Regions from separate parts of the Homo sapiens genome. Here region 1 is linked to region 2. Evidence: fine-mapped expression QTL. A gene starts in region 2. The other region holds a variant in brackets. All regions are shown on one strand. Distances are from middle to middle. Region 1 overlaps SERPINI2 (serpin family I member 2). Region 2 holds the start of WDR49 (WD repeat domain 49).

Evidence for each region. PIP is the estimated chance that this variant, and not a neighbour inherited with it, causes the effect. A credible set is the group of variants that fine-mapping cannot tell apart.
Region 1: its variant is the best candidate, but not a certain one, in a credible set for the expression of WDR49 in lung (TOPMed, PIP 0.73).

Annotation. Positions count from the first base shown.
Region 1 is chr3:167,469,650-167,472,575 of GRCh38, forward strand. SERPINI2 (serpin family I member 2) reads right to left here. Exons shown (of 9, transcript NM_006217.6): 2 at 1,939-2,195. The coding sequence starts at 2,185. LOC105374197 (a long non-coding RNA gene) reads left to right here. Exons shown (of 3, transcript XR_924683.3): 2 at 1,416-1,472. Among named protein-coding and RNA genes, the nearest start is that of SERPINI2, 2.9 kb to the right of the region's middle. The variant AATC/A (reference allele first, on the strand shown) is at 1,288.
Region 2 is chr3:167,652,396-167,655,321 of GRCh38, forward strand. It overlaps WDR49 (WD repeat domain 49), which reads right to left and starts at 1,547. Exons shown (of 19, transcript NM_001366157.1): 1 at 1,439-1,547; 2 at 866-1,104. The coding sequence starts at 1,030. RefSeq lists enhancers at 761-1,284, 1,285-1,807.

The sequences.
Region 1 (2,926 bases), 180 kb before region 2:
AAGGGAGTATTAACAGATGTTCAGCAAAATGGAGGAGGTAAATTCAGAGCAGATGTTTTGACAATGAAGTAAAGAAGGAGAACTGAGGACACTGAGAGCCTTACATAATATATGAGAATTAATATTCTTATTAATATATTAGTGAGAATATATTGCTCTTATATTCTTAATCCTCACTGAATTATTTTAGGAATTAGCACTGAGCAAATTATTTAACCTTTCTTTGCCTCAGTTTTCTCAGGTTTATTACAAGGTTGTTTACTTAACAAAGTAATTATAAATATTAAATGAGAGAATATATATTAAGCACATGAAACAGTGGCTGATATCCTTTCTATATTTTTGATAGTGCGTTATTACTATTACTTTATCATGTTCACAATTCACACCTGTTAAAACTTCTGTGTTTCTCTATATCATGTATCCATTTAAAGTAATTTAAGTTTTCAGAGACTCTAATTTATGTATCTTCACAAATATTGTATTACTTTTTCAAAGCTATAGCATGTGGTTTAAACGTTTCTGGGAGTGGTATATTGGGATTTGCTGAAATTAATCAAGACTAAATCTGGAATACATTGGCTTCAGTGTGCACTATTTGCAAAGAAAAATTCTTACAATTAACTTCACTTCACTATTACCAACGTCTTTTCTGTATAAAATTGTCTTTATTTAAAATGAAGCAAATAAAATCTTGTAAATAGTATTTTCAGGAAAGCAAATTTCTAAATACTGCTACTCTGTGATAAGAAAAATACACTGAAATTATAGTTGTAGCAACTAAATTCCCAAATCAAAAATCTGTATTTAGAACACAGTATCTCAGAGTAATCCAAAAGCTGAAAATTAAAACAACTATAGAAACTGAGAGCATGAGATAGCTGAGGAGATGAGCAACAACTTTTTTTTTTTTTTTTTTTTTTTTTTTTTGGAGAAGGAGTCTGTTCTTTTGCCCTGGCTGGAGTGCAGTGGCACGATCTCAGCTCACTGCAACCTCTGCCTCTTGGGTTCAAGCACTTCTCCTGCCTTAGCCTCTCAAGTAGCTGAGACTATAGGCACATGCCACCATGCCTTGCAAATTTTTGTATTTTTCCAGCCTGGTCTCGAACTCCTGACCTCAAGTGATCCACCTGCCTCAGCCTCCCAAAGTGCTGAGATTACATGTGTGAGCCACCACACCAGCCAAGCAACAATTCTTTCAAATGGGATGCCAGCACAAAAGCACAGTATCCCAGTAAGAGGGATAGACACTATCCCAGACAGTCCATGAGGAGACTCCAACAAAAC[AATC/A]ATCATTCACAAGCACAAAGGCCTCTGATTATTTAAATCCTTTTTTTTCCATTTTCCTTTTAAAACTAGTAACAAATAAGCTTTTAAAATGAACAAATTAATGTTTTTTCTTGGTCTCGTTACAGATGAGGTGCATTTTTTTTAAGAGAAATGTTGGAAACAACCTACTGAAGAAAGGCTAAGTAAGTAATGGTACTTCTATAAGAGGCAATAAGATACAGTAATTAAAAATCATATTTTGAATCAGTTCCATGACATGGGAAAATGATCACAACATAGTGATAGTGGAAGAATATGTATGTGTATAGATGTATATTTTATGAGTATGTACATACACACACACACATGCACGCCCAGTATAATCTCAAGTAATTAAAACTGGCTAAAACAAACTAAAAGAAAATGTACAAATATTTACTTAATTTTACATTTATATAGATGTCAATTTCTTAATAATTTTTGTAACCTTTTAAAGGAATTAATTATAAATGAATGAAAATTACATTTACAATTCTCCATTTTATTACAATTTTGTACTTTTCATTACATTTTCACTTATTAAAATTTCTTTATCCTGAACTTCTAATATTAAAAAATGAATGCGTCCATATCTTATCCAGTATAAGTAAGGAGATGTAAGAGTCTCACCAGCTGAGGTTTCCTGTTGTTTTAAAGTTTGTCTTATCTGCTGCTGTGCTTTTCCTTTGGCTCCCAGTTGTACCATCTCAAGAACCAAAGTTATTCCAAGGGGTGAAAATATAATGTTGTCCTTATGAGATAAGGAAACCTCTTGATAAAGATCCACTGCAAATTCGGTATTTTTTTGAGCTGAGCATCTTGAGGCTTGACTTCCAAAAAACAGCAATAGAAGACTCCACAAGAAGATTGTGTCCATTTTGACTTCTCTGTATTGTTTAAATCAAAATATATTCATTTTCAAAATAGAGTTTTCCACAGAGAGCTCAACAGAAAACTTTCTACCTGTTGTAGCTTTCTATCTTAATAGAACTTACTACCACAAGTGAACTCTATCCAATTAGATTTCTAAGTATCATCTATTCAGAAAAATAGTTCATGTGTTAATGGTATTTCTTACATATCTTCAAGAACCAGTAGAAAATATACTTGTAGTTTTGTAGCAAAAATCAAAAAAGACACTACAATGTTGGAATGTTATCAATGGCAATGGTATCTCCAAATAGTTATACAATAGTTTTTTTCTATCTTTTCTCATGGTTAAGTGGGATAACTGTAACTCTGACATCAGGTAAACCTTCTGTGCTGTCTACTCTACAGTAATTTATAGATCAAGAGGAAGAAATGGAATAAAAACAGACTTACTCCAGTGTGGTTTTAGACCTATAATATTAGAAAATTAATGTATTCTAAAGCAACTGAGTAATCTGGCTAACTTTTTACAATTTTCCTCACGCTTTATTTCTTAGGACAAAATAACCCAAAGCCCTCTTCCTGCTTTTCCAAAAGAAGACAAATACAATGCAGAAAACCTGCAAAGTTTGAAACAAAATGGCAATCAAATATAAATGATACAATAAAGTACTATGCTCACTACCTGGGTGATGAGATCATTTATACCCCAAACCTTAGTGTCAGGCCATATACCCATGTAGCAAAC
Region 2 (2,926 bases):
AAATTAGTATGGATACTCCAAGCACCCACGGACAATCTTAAGAAGGCCCTAGATCATACTTTAGTAAACATAATATAGTAGAAATGTTGGAGGCTCATGACTACCTAAATTCTACGTCATGGAAGAGCACTTCTTTCTACCCATATTTGAAACTAAAAACCACTTTGATGTATGCTGTTCATTATGCATAGCTGCAGAATTCAAAATTCATTGACTAAGAGAGAAGAAAATTATTCATTTACAGTTAAATTCCTATGGTTTATTTTTTATGCAGAGTTAAAATGAAAAATTCTAATTTTGTTTTTATTGGCATTGTTCCAGGATTTACAAAATGAGTGGGAGACTCGTCCCTCATAAGGGATCTTGGGACAACAAAGTGCCAGAATCAGCTTAGAAAAGGAGCTGTGCCACTTAGGGTGAGTGAGACAGGAGGAAATTTTTTGCAAACTGGGTATGCATATTTGCATTTGCTGAGTTCTATGTCCGTATTAAATGCAAGAACAATTATTCCTGGAGGTCACCTTAGAGATCTGGCTTTCTTCACTCACAGCCATAATTTTTTGTTTCCCCAAAATATGTTGATCTCTAAGAAAAAAATTTTTTCCAACAATAAATAGTTCTTTCTTGATAGTAATGAAATTCAGTGAAGCAATTTCAAACTAAAGAATATTATTTGGCCCAAAGAACTGAGGGGCAAAGCTACCAAGCACATTGTGTTAAATCCAGGCCTAACCAATTATTTTTAATTCTCTGCTATAACAATTAAGTGTATTTTTTTAATGCTTAAAGAAAAATATCTCTGTGTTTCATTCTAGGCTCCTTCATGAACAACTCAAACTATCTGGTCAATAAGCTTCACACTTACCTCAAAGGCCTTCTGTATTTTTACAAAGTCACCCACGCTGAGTTGGTTTTCAAGCAGGCCTGTGCCATAGTCTTCAAATGCAGTTACACCTTCTGTTCTCTCAGGACTCTTTGGCCCAAGCTGTGACCCTATGTTTAACTCAAGTACAGCTTTCTGGCAACTCATAATGGCTTCACCTTTTCTCAGTTGCCTTCAACTATTTCTATAAGGATGGATCTTCTTTTTCCTTCAACAGGTGCCTTTGAAAAGAAACTCAACTTAGCAACAGAATTCCAAAATGAAAGTACAAACCTTTCAAGGCATACGATCAGGAGGCAAAATGTTCAAGCTGAGGTAGGAAATGAAAGCCCTCAACCCTCTCACTTATTTGATTCTAGAGTTTATTTTCAAAATTTACAGTTGAATGCTTTTAAAATGGTATTTTTACCCCTTCCTTATACTCTGTTTAACCTGGCTTGATTAAAAATGTGTAAAGCTTTCCCCACATTTATAGTAACTGACACAGAAAACAACTTCCAATCCTCATTTTAAATGCATTAGAAAAGCACCTTCCCAAAAATCTCTTTAACTAACCTTGCTTCCATTAACATGTTGTAGTTTTCAATTCCACTTTCTTGTCTGGAAGAGTTAGATGACAAAGCTGCAGAGTTTCCCTACCAATGAAGTACTTGACTCTGAATGCCACCTTCCCAGCAATGTGGAGTTGTTTGTTTCATCTGTTCTGATCCTTTTGTATGTTTCCTGGCAACCAACACAAAGCCAACTAAAACTTTCCCTTTCACTTCCCCCTCTCCAACTGAAAGTTTAAATATATAATGTAAATGTTGAAATGGTTTTTTTTGAAATAAAAGGACAGTTCATTCCACTCATTTTTTATTAAACGACATCTTGTATTATTTAAAGACAACTTTTACCATTATATAGGATATATATTATGAAACTATATGATTAGTCAAAGAGAAAAGCATGAAATTCTGGAATTTTATGTTTTATACACAGAAAATGTTTTATTTTTATATAAAAGGAATCTGTTTCTTATATTCTTTTTGTCTTAGTTTCTATGTATATAAAATAGAGATGGTTCAAAAAAGCTTCCAACTTGTTGAAAATGTGATAAAAAAACACAGCATAACATAATATGATAAATCTAATGATAAAATTGCTTGCAGTGTCATTACTGGTTCAGCTAATAATAATGAAAAGGAGGAGAAAAAGAAGAAAAATTAACATTTTTTGAGTATTAACCATGTGCCAGGCACTAAAACTTTATGTTCATTGTCTTGTTTAAGCTTCACAACAATCCTACAAGGCAGATGTGATCATTATCCCCATTTTACTGATAAAGAAGCAAAAAGCCGGGCAAGGTGGCTCACGCCTGTAATCCCTGCACTTTGGGAGGCTGAGGCAGGTGGATGGCTTCAGCTCAGGAGTTCGAGAGCAGCCTGGGCAACATGACGAGACATTGTATCTAGTAAAAATACAAAAATAATCAGCCGAGCATGGTGGCGCACACCTGTGATCCCAGCTACTCGGGAGGCTGAGTTAGAAGGATCCCTTGAACCTGGGGGGCAGAGGTTGCAGTGAGCCAAGATTGTGCCACTGCACTCCAGCCTGGGCAACAGAATGAGACCCTGTCTCAAAAAAGAAAAAAAAAAAAAGCAAAGAAAATGCCAAAGGTCACACAAATAGTAACATACGGAAGAGAACAGAATGGCTCCCAAACTTCAGATACTGCATGTATTAGTCTGTTTTCACACTGCTAATGAAGACATACCTGAGACTGGGTAATTTATAAAGGAAAGAGGTTTAATTGACTCATAATTTCACATGGCTGGGGAGGCCTCAAAATCATGACAGAAAGCTAATGAGGGCAAAGTCATGACTTACATGGCAGTAGGCAAGACAGCATGTGCAGGGTAACTCCCATTTATAAAACCATCAGATCTCATGAGACTTATTCACTACCAGGAGAACAGTATGGGGAAACCGCCCCCTTGAGTCAATTATCTCCACCTGGCCACGCCCTTGTCATGTGAGGATTATTACAATTCAAGGTGAGAT